Linked DNA regions of Homo sapiens. Changing the gene in region 3 together with the main gene of any one other region gives a genetic interaction. Each region holds a gene or a part of one and is shown on either strand. Other genes may lie near its edges.

Evidence for each region.
Region 1: changes in CERT1 (region 3) and HAPSTR1 together harm fitness less than expected from each alone (positive genetic interaction), as found in Homo sapiens cells (one large-scale study listed by BioGRID).
Region 2: changes in CERT1 (region 3) and PTAR1 are lethal when combined (synthetic lethality), as found in Homo sapiens cells (one study listed by BioGRID).

What each region holds. Positions count from the first base shown.
Region 1 is NC_000016.10:9,101,530-9,105,183, reverse strand, and holds part of HAPSTR1 (HUWE1-associated protein modifying stress responses 1), read right to left. Parts: intron 2,201-3,654; coding exon 1,925-2,200; exon of another isoform or gene 1-1,924. UniProt on the Homo sapiens protein: Acts as a central player within a network of stress response pathways promoting cellular adaptability. The E3 ligase HUWE1 assists HAPSTR1 in controlling stress signaling and in turn, HUWE1 feeds back to promote the degradation of HAPSTR1.
Region 2 is NC_000009.12:69,729,002-69,732,655, reverse strand, and holds part of PTAR1 (protein prenyltransferase alpha subunit repeat-containing protein 1), read left to right. Parts: intron 1-303; coding exon 304-517; intron 518-3,654.
Region 3 is NC_000005.10:75,505,058-75,508,711, forward strand, and holds part of CERT1 (ceramide transfer protein), read right to left. Parts: intron 1,060-3,654; coding exon 925-1,059; intron 1-924. UniProt on the Homo sapiens protein: Shelters ceramides and diacylglycerol lipids inside its START domain and mediates the intracellular trafficking of ceramides and diacylglycerol lipids in a non-vesicular manner.

The DNA.
Region 1 (3,654 bases), on a different chromosome or scaffold from region 3:
TATCATTGCTTAAAACTCCCAAAGTTCAGGAAAACAATAAATCACAGGTGGAACAGATTCAATATGAGAAAATGTAGTGGGAGTTGGAGAATACAGTTTTTCGAGGGCAGAGGGGGCTGGCTTGCCCTTTTTACTATTATGTACACTACTACTACGTTAAGATAACAAGCATGGTTTTTATGTTTCTTAAAACTATCTTCTAAAATATAACAGTAAAACAGAGTAAAAAGATACCTTAAGAGAAGCATGGAATGACCCACAACCCTCTTAATAAAGGAAGAAAATCACAATACTTAAGGAGAGACAACTGCATCAAATATTACCATGCGCTAAAATTAATCTAACAAACTATGTACACCTCTAGTTAATTGTTTTCCCAAACTTTAGGGGGAAAGATGTGAAACTCTCTAATTCAGCATAAACAGATCAATCCCATTTTTGCCTGAGCTTCCAAAGTTCTGACAGCCTAACTATTCCACTGTGTCAGGAACAGTGTGCAGTCTTAAAGTACTGCATCCACACAACCTGAACTTTCCTGCAATTCATGTTTTTGTTTTTAATTGTCCTAAACACTATCAAGGGAAAAAACAACATTGGGGTTTCAGGAAAGAACTACGGTTTGCCAGAGAGAACAAGATCTCTACAGGTATTATAAAGTCTCAATGATTCAACGTCTATAAAGTTTCTTTATATGCCACTATTTCTTAGTACCTTACCAGGTTACTTTGTTTTAGATGACCTGTACTATGGCCCAAAAATGTTAACTTTCAACAAGACTCATGGCCAGGCGCAGTGGCTCACACCTGTAATCCCAACACTTTGGGAGGCCAAGGTGGGCGGATCACCTGAGGTTGGGAGTTCGAGACCAGCCTGACCAACACGGTGAAACCCTGTCTCTAAAAAATTAGCCGGCGTGGTGGCACATGCCTGTAATCCCAGCTACTCGGGAGGCTGAGGCAGGAGAATCGCTTGAACCCAGAGGTAGAGGTCGCGGTGAGCCAATATCGCGCCAATGCACTCCAGCCTGGGCCACAAGAGCGAAACTCCGTCTCCAAAAAAAAAAAAAAAAGAAAAAAAGGATTCATGACCTAATTACTTCTACCTGCTTAGCCATCTGCGTGATCCATCTTTCCATCATGGTTTCAAGCAAGTCTTATTATTCTGTTGCTTTTTTTCCTACAGCAGTATTCAATGCTGTCACACAGGTTAACTCTCCCAGCTCTATTTGGAAGTCTGTATTAGACAGCAACAAGCAACAACAGACTTATCACTGACTACATTTCCCGGGTTTCTCCAGCAATACTAAAATCCCTTAGCCAAGAGTGCCTTCTTATGACAGGTCTGGCCTGGGGAGATAGAGATCCACCTGCCCACTGGCTGCACTCTGCTGGTCCTGCCTCTTAAAGTGCAAGGGACCTGAGGGACGACAGGCAGAAGGTCAAGTCTTACATCCATCCTCTCCCACCATCTACAGCAAACCAAGTAAGAAAGGTGTCAAGGGAGGTCCCAGGTCCCATGAGAACTAACCCAACAATTTCCCACCTTACTTGCCTGTCATGGACCATTAGAAATATAACAGAATTCTTAAGACACAAGAACTTCCTCTTTGACTTCAGAAGAGGAAAAAAACACGTACAACACATAAGTGTAAAGCGATAAATTCTAATCAACACTGCAGAAAGATATGTCATTTTAACACCAATAAGCTCAAACTAACTTTCTAAAAACATTTTCTAGGATAGGTTAGCTGACAGAAATCGCCCATATTAAGTTCTTAGCTTACATTCTATTAAACATTTCTAGAGCAAGCTGTTTACTGTAAGACAAAAAACAGTATATCTGGACCTAAACCTAACCGTGAAAAATGGGTCCACAGGCACCCTCTTAACCATTTTTCCAAAGAAATATGTTTAAACGGCTTTACCATGCAGAGCTATGGCTTCCCGGAAGGGTTGCAAATCAGTCTCTACAGATGAGCTAGTTTCCGTTGAAGTAGCTCGGTTAGGGGACACTACAGTCAGTCTTGGGGGAGCTCTAGAGTTTCGTGGTGGAGGAACTTTTCCACACAGGAAGCTGATCAAATCTTCTCGACGAATAGTTCTTCTGCGTTTTTTAACCCAAGCCAACACATCCTTATTGCGTCGCTGATAGCCAATCTGAATTCCAATATCAAAACTTCGTTGATGGGTATCCACGCTTTCTGTTAGAAAAAAAGAAAAAGAAAACATGTATCATGACCATTAGAGCCCGTATTCCCTTCTAAAGAAAACCATTTTACAATTTAACCAAAGTGAATACCATGATGTGGCCTCTGAGCCCATCAGTAATATAAACTGAAATGATTTCAGTCATAATGAAAATGTTATATGTAACATTTAATCTTAATGGTCTAAATTCAGTGTTTACTTATCACAGTCCTGGAGCTTGGCTTGTTAAAAAAAAAAATTTAACAGAAACAGAGAGATTAGGTATCTTTAATGAAATTACCTAAAATAACTTGCATCACATCATTCAACAGATGTCTAAATATTGCACATGCCTCAGGCCACGCTCATCTGCATTTACCACGTCATTGTGGAGATACATTCCTACTGACAGATTCAGCACCAAGAATGAGGAACAAGCTGAAGGCAGCAGCAAATGTTTTAGAAGGAAAAATTAATTCTGACTGATGGCTCAACACTAAAACCAAATAGCATGGTGGAAAACAAAAAGCTTTATTCATTTCCCTGGGTATACTCATTTTGCTTCCAGTTCTCAACAGCTTCCTGTAACTCAACCATTCCCAACAGATCTCCTAGACTAAATTCTCTGCATATACTCCACCTGGGTTTTGGTAAAATGATCTCTACCTTTTAGTGGTTTCATTTAGTTGAAAAAAAATTTGAAAATTTAAGTGACTATTATTTAGTTTTAATTGAGCTGCTGTGCCAGCAGAACATCACCAGTATGTCTTTAATGGCATTAACCAACATCGTTACTTTATCCTTGAACTTTCCGTAAAAGCAACAATACTGTGTACATTTCTCTATTACTTTTCCCGGCTTTGATTATTTCGTTTTATTTTATTTTTTGAGACGGAGTCTCTCTGTTGCCCAGGCTGTAGTGCGATGGCTCGATCTCAGCTCACTGCAACCTCCGCCTCCAGGGTTCTCCTGCTTCAGCCTCCTGAGTAGCTGGGATTACAGGCGCACGCCACCATGCCTGGCTAATTTTTCTATTTTTAGTAGAGACCGGGTTTCACCATATTGGTCAGGCTGGTCTTCAACTCCTGACCTTGTGATCCGCCTGCCTCAGCCTCCCAAAGTGCTGGGGATTACAGGCGTGAGCCACTGCAACCGGCGGCTTTAATTTCTTGTCTGCTACATCTACAGCAGACTCTCAAAGGATGGGCAATAGTCAAACAATGTAAAGCTATGTTCCAGAAAAAAAAAAAAAAAATCATCCAGACATCACAGAGGATGCCAAGCTGAATTTGCACTATTAAAGAAAATGGCAAGAGGGAAGCACAACAACCAGAACTTTATAATAAGGCCTACTCTTAAGCAGATGACAGTCTTTATTGCTAAAGACAAAGAAAAACAAGGATATTGTCCACAGATCTTTTCTCTTAAAAAAATAATCAAAGTAGGACCTGGGATGTTAAAAAGAAAG
Region 2 (3,654 bases), on a different chromosome or scaffold from region 3:
TCCTGGCCAAGTGGAGTTTTGGGATTGTCATTTTAGAAGTAATGACATTCTCTGTATTACAGATTTTAAAGTTTTTTTTTTTTCCTGTTTATCCATTTTCCACCCTTCATCCATACTGCTAAATTAGTATCATCATAAACAACAAAACAACCCCTCCCCATCTCCAAAATACTAGACTTATAAACAGGTATTATTTTGCATTGTCTCTGAATGGAAATTAAATTAGGAACAATGAAAACTGGTTATTTTTCTCTCTGGTTTATGTTCTTTCTGTGTTCTCTTTCCCACATGCTGCCTTAACAGGCGATGGGTGCTACAACAGCTAATTCAGGAAACCTCCTTGCCTTCCTTTGTGACCAAAGGAAACTTGGGAACAATTCCCACAGAAAGGGCACAGCGACTCATACAAGAAGAGATGGAGGTCTGTGGTGAAGCAGCAGGGAGATACCCAAGCAACTATAATGCTTGGTCCCATCGCATCTGGGTTTTACAGCACTTGGCCAAGCTAGATGTCAAGGTAGGAATATTACTGTCTCCTGGGCAGACTGCCTGTCTGCCCTTAAAATCTTCTGGTAGTAGTTCATTCTCAGAAGAGCTTTGAAGGAGTAGAGAAACTGATGGTCTGGCAACTTGAGAGAATCGCAACAGCTGCTACCTCTGGAGGAACCCTGTAATTAAATAAAAAGCTTGCATTCCCCACTAGTGCTGTTTTTGGCAGTCTTAAGGCTAGTGCATTGGTAAAGCAAGGCAGGTTTAACCAACTGAGGAAGATTGAGCATAACTCACTTTATCCTGAAACAGGAAGGGATTATTAAGCCTTATAGAACTGGAATTGCTATTTCTTGGTAGTGTTTGGTTATGTGACAATATACTAAGTCAGCTGGCTGTCTTTTCACACTCTCGTCCTCTGAAAAGGGGGAGAGGAGGGCAGGGATAGACAATCTCACCCAGGTGTTTTTAAAATTGGCTGAGCCTATAAATTACCTGGGGATTCCTAAGTTCCACTCCAAGCCTACTAAAGCAGAATGAGGGTGGATCTAGAGATCAGTATTTTCCACTGACTCAGGGTTATTTGAATGCAGAGCCAGTTTGGAAACTCTCACAGCCTAATCCTTTCAGTTTAGAAATGAGGAGATGGAGATTTCCAGAGAATTTTAATGGCTTAGACTTAGCTACAGTTGTACCACTTATTATTCATCAGAATGAGAGCCACATGTCCCTTTTGCTCCTTATATACTACGGTGTCTCAGTTTTTTCTTTTCTGATGGCGTCACAGTGCCATAAGAATCTAGGGTGCTCATCTAAAAAGCTTCTCAGGCTTGAGACAGTTAAAAGAGGTCAAGTTGAAGATTGAAGTGCCCCAGGTGATGCTTTCAGATAAGTGGGGAAGTGTTATGTAATTTTAACTTACCACCCTCTTCTTCCTACATCCCTCTTCCCATGCTCCCATTTCTCTCTTTGTTTCCTGGCCAGGGCAAATGGGAGACTTTTTACTTCCAGAGGATTTTAAGCCAATAATTCTGGAAGAGAAGCCTTCCCCATTCAGTTTACATGGCTTTGAGTTTCAGGAGGGGTGGCCGCCTAATGGAATAGAAAGAACCAAGGCTCAGAATCACATCAACCTAGGTTCAGATTTTGGCCCCACTACCTATATGTGGAAAGCAAGGTTTTATTGTTTTCATTTATAAAATAGGGACTCTACTGTCTGCCTCAGTGGATTATTGTGAGAGTTAATTGAGTTAATGGATGTAAATTACTGGGCATCTAATAGAGAGAGATTCACTCGATTTTAGTTCCTTTCTCTGTTCTCCAGAGATAGAAAATTGGCTACCAGTTTGCTTGATCAACTCCGTGCAATTTATTGATGAAAAAGTATAAAACCCTATCATACCCACCGACTGTCCTGTATACGCAGTAAAACAAAGTGTTTGCTCTCAACAAATTGAAAATCTAGTTGAGAAAGTAGACCAACAATTACAAAGCATCAGAATACAATGGGAGCACAGAAAAATCGTTCTTCATCTAGGATGCGCTCGTTGGAAATAGCTGCCGGGGGAAGGAAGATACATTGAGTTGGGAGGCATGATTACAAGTTGTTTGGTGGGTTGTCAGGGATATGGAGTGCTTGGTGGTCATCTCAGATCCATGACTTGATAGTGTGTGGGAAGAGGAAAGAGATATGGGGAGGATTGGGGATAAAAAGGAAGGCGGAGTCCAGGTTGACTGAGAGATCTTTGGAAATTTTTCTGCCATGATGTGGACCTTTACAAGTGGCATTTCCATAAAATCAGGAACAAGGGGCCAAAGTGAAATTTTTGGTTACTTGAGACCATCTGGTGGTAAAGATAACTCATTAATGGTGAGTTATAACTCATTAATGGTGAGCTCAGCTGCCAGGGTCCACTCCTGGGTTCAGATGTCATCATCCTTCCTTGACCCGCCCTTGGAGGAAGACTTACCATTCTTCCATTCACCACTTGCCACTGCAACATCTCTTGCTCTTGTTGTCAGTGAGGAGTCCTAAATTTGCAAAATCCCCTTTCTGTTGTTATAAGCCATTGGGCCCACCTAGAACATTTACTACTATGCTTTGTCTGTTACAGGAGGTAATCACAAAAATACCAGTAGTCTAAATCAGCTTAAAAATATATATGAAATGAGCCAGCATTTTTTAACTTAGGAAATTGAAAATGACTTTTTAAAGTGCTGGCATCGAGTATTAGTAAGAGTATGAAAATGAGCATTATTCAAATTGTTATAAGCTTACTGAAGGGCAACATGGCAGCACTTATCACACTTTTAAAAATAGGGTGTTATTTTTAAGAGTTCTGCTTCCAGGAATTCATCATAAAGAAATAATGGAAGATGAAGTATGGTAGAATGATTAGAAGCTTCACTCAGTGGTCATGCAGACCTGCTTTGCATTCTGGCTTTACCACCAATTTGCTGTGTAGCCTTGAGGAAGTTGCTTAGCCTCTTCAACCTTCAGTTTTCTCATCCGGAAAAGGAGGGTGACAATAATTCCCATCTCACTGAGTGATGCAAATTGAAAGGGAGGATTCATATAAAGTGGCTATCAAAGTGCCTTAATTAAGTGCTCAATAAACACTGGCTATTAAATATAGAAGTTTGATATATAAAAGTAGCATTTATAGTAGTGAAAAACTAGAAAAGCTGTAGCCCTTCAATAATGAGGGAATTGTTAGATTACAATCCATCACATTGGAATATTTTGTTATGACTAAAATGTATATTTTGGAAGATGATTTAAAGGAAAATATTCACAATAGGTTATATTAGGGTAGGCCTAATATTATTATTTATTTATTTATTTTTGAGACAGGGTTTTGCTCTGTCGCCCAGGCTGGAGTGCAGTGGCACAATCTCAGCTCACTGCAACCTCCGCTTCCCAGGTTCAAGCGATTCTCCTGCCTCAGCCTCCCAAGTAGCTGGGATTACAGGCACCCACTACCACGCCCAGCTAATTTTTATATTTTTAGTAGAGACGGGGTTTCGCCATGTTGGTCAGGCTGGTCTTGAACTCCTGACCTCAAGCAATCCACCTGCCTCTGCCTCCCAAAGTGCTGGGATTACAGGCATGAGCCACCACACCCAGCAGCCTAATATAATTTTTAATGTATTTATTAGCATTGA
Region 3 (3,654 bases):
GGGTGGATCACTTGAGGTCAGGAGTTTGAGACCAGCCTGGCCAACACAGTGAAACCCCATTTCTACTAAAAATACAAAAATTAGCCGGGCGTGATGGCACGTGGCTATAGTCCCAGCTACTTGGGAGGCTGAAGCAGAAGAATTGCTTGAACCTGGGAGGTCGAGGTTGCAGTGAGCTGAGACCACAGAACTGCACTCCAGCCTGGGTGACAGAGCAAGACTGTCTCAAAAACAAAACAAAACAAAACAAAAAAACAAAAAAAGAACAACAAAATGTAAACTAAGTAGAATGACTCAACGAAGGTGAGTTATTCTTTTAAAGGGTGTTGAATTGGAGAAAAGTGATGTAACTGCAAAATATAAGGGGAAATCATAAAAAGTTAGAAGGAGCCTATACTTAGAGTTTTTCAAAAGTTATCTTCAGGCTTTTATTCCACATTAGAGAAATCAAAACTGTAAATAGCAAATCATGTGTGAGGAACATGAGAACAGCTTCTCCCAACTCCACAAAGAGATGGCATTAGCTCAATGTTAAAAAGTTTAAAAATGAATTTACATTTATATTTTTAAGTTAAAATTTTAGAATGTTACTTACAAGATGTATTATTTTTAAATATTCAGTAACCTACAAAGTAACTGTCCCAGCCTCAACAAATAAAAAGGCTTCAAACATTTTTTTTTCCTGAAGCCCTTAAACTGGTTTGATATACCCACCAGATAAAAACTACATGTCTATGCAAAATAACAATATGTAGTAAAAACCACAGTAAAATCACTTTATGGAAAAAAGTATTAGAATGTATATTCTACAAGGACAAGGATCTTTATCTTATCCACGGATGTATCCTGAACACGTAGAACAGTTCCTGGTATGTAGCTGACACTCAATAAATATTTGTTGAATGAAGAAGAAAAGGAACTTACTGTGATGACAGCCTTGCTAAGACAGATGGATCCTCTGCAGCCATACTCTGTTTCATCTTCAGATTTGTAGTAACTCAGAGCATTATTTTTCAAAACTACCCAACGATCCTGCCACCCATGAATGTAGTTTGTCCACTGGGAGTGGGAAGGGGAAGGGAAGAGAGAAGAAAACAAAAAATAGAAGTATTTTAGAAATCCAAACTTTGTGAAACAGCAATCTAATTTTAAAACCAAAACGTGAAAAGTCCAACTTAATTCTAAGCATAAACAGTAAAATGATTACAAAAAGTGAAAAGTTGAGATTTTCTAGATTGCATAATGATTTTCAGTAATTTTTACAATATTATAAATAAATCTGTAAGAAATAAAATATAACATTTTCTTCTAACATTTGAAGAATAAAACGAAAGCCAGATTTTGGTTAAAATTATTGTTTATTCTTCGTATGCTTTCATCCTCTCCTAAGTACCTTCATGATATTTGTTTTGGTCCTTGTCATAATTAACATATTCAACAGAGAAGTATGTTCAGTTATGTATGTAGTCTCTCATTCTGACACCAAAGACTGCATGAAGCCTTCTAAATCAACGGAAGTATAAAGTCAATTATTGCTAAACTCTACTTTTGTTGTTATTCCTATATGAAAATTTATAACAGCTGTAACTATATCAAAATAAAAATAATAATCTTTAGTAAGCTGGCATCAACTTTAACTTTTCCTCTACAGAACTGAATAATATTAAAAATGGCCAATACATTTTCCAAGTTCCTCTGAACATGCATTTTTCAAACTCAAGAGTAATAAAACAAAAATAAAATTGCTTTTCAAAAACATATTGGATTGTCTTCAATACCTTAAGAGTTTCTGTGTTGCTAAAGTCTTGCTGCAAAGTGAAGATCACAATAAACTGGAAAAGGCAGAAATGTAACCTTTACAGGAATACTTATTTTTGCATGTTTTTATCTATGCTCTGGGGTGTTAAGTATAGAAAAATCTCAAAAACTATCTGCCAATTCCAAAAACTAATTAAAAATGGATTGCCAAAATATACTGCATTGGCTCAGGCTCTATATCCACTGAGAAATCTTTTATTTTTCTGTTCTCTAATTAAGCATTTTTGAGATTGATTCACTTCTTAAATTTTCTTTTATTTAGTATTTTCTTGAGACAGGGTCTCGCTCTGTCACCCAGGATGGAGTGCAGTGGCACCATCTCAGTTTACCGCAATCTCCTGGGCTCAATCCTCCCACCTCAGCCTCCCAAGTGATTGAGACTACAGGTGTGCACCCCCACATCTGGCTAATTTTTTGTAGAAATGAGGTTTCGCTATGGTGCCAAGGCTCGTCTCAAACTCCTGGGCTCAAGCGATCTGTCTTCCTTGGTCTCCCAAAGTGCTGGGACTACAGGTGAGCCACCATCCCTAGCCAGTTCTTAATTTTTCTAAGCCCCATCATTACAACCACTCTCTGAGAACTCACCCAAGCCAACATTTAACTCATTCTAGTGGCTCCCAATCACCATTTCCTTATTTCTAACTGCTTGAGATGTACCACCACTTAGACACGGGCTTGAAATAAATGATAGTTACCAATAAAACTGAATTCACCTTCCTATAAAGTATACTTCCTTCCTATTTTCCTACTTCCTTGGGGAGACTGCTACTTCTGCTCAGAGTTAGTGTATTAGATATACAAACAGATTAGTGGATATAGGATAAAATAGGCTCAACTATTTTATAACTCATGTGAAGAGAGTTTTGACAAGTTACTTTTGTAAACTTCAGTTTCTTTGCCTGTTGACTGACGGCCGAATAAAATAATGAAAATGCCTAGCATAGTCACAGAAGATACTCAATACCTAAGTGTTCCTTCTCAATATTTATAGCCCATTACCAAAAGCTGCTCATCTTTCCTTCATAGTAAACCCTTAAATTTGCCTCCTCTTCTCATTTTCAACTATTCCAATCAAATTATCCAGTTCCTGTATTCCTTAGGAGACTTAATAATTTTTTCTCTAGTATCTTCTGTTTTTTTCATAATTTACACAAGCTTATTTACTTACTAAGCATATTTGCCTACTTTTCTTACATTGATCGTATTGAGTCTCTAGCTCCAAAACTTACATGGACAACTTCCCACTGACTGTCATACAAATTGTTTAGGGCATTCAAGACCCTTCATGGATTAATCCTACCTCATTTACAATTACCACACTTCATAAGGCTAAACTTTGTGACAGTGGTCAAGTTACTTATTCTCTTTGTGTTCTTTTTTTCTTTGTCAAATTCTCTTAGAGTTAAGTTTAAACAAGAATAGACTTAGAACAGTGCCTGGACATAGTATTTTCTGAATCTGAGGAAGAGTTATACATAGCTAATGAAGCTTAACCTTCAGCATTTCTCACTAGAATAGAACTCTTTCAATGTTAGAGGAGAAGCCCCAGCAATTATGTATCCATAACTTAATATTAGTTCTTATAAGAGACTGAACAAACTGTATCAGCTTCAGGACCCTTTACTCAGTAAGTATTAGCTGTATCATGACACCTGGAAGACAAGTTTTTTGTCTTTTCTCTGCTCTCATAATGTTCCCTCACTCTTCCCCATTTAACAAATACAGATAAGGCAATATGCTAGACACTGCAGGGGAATCAAATATTACTGTGGCCAACAGGCCAGCAGACACAAACTCAAGAGAAAAAAATATATATTTAGAATAAGAGTCAGAAGC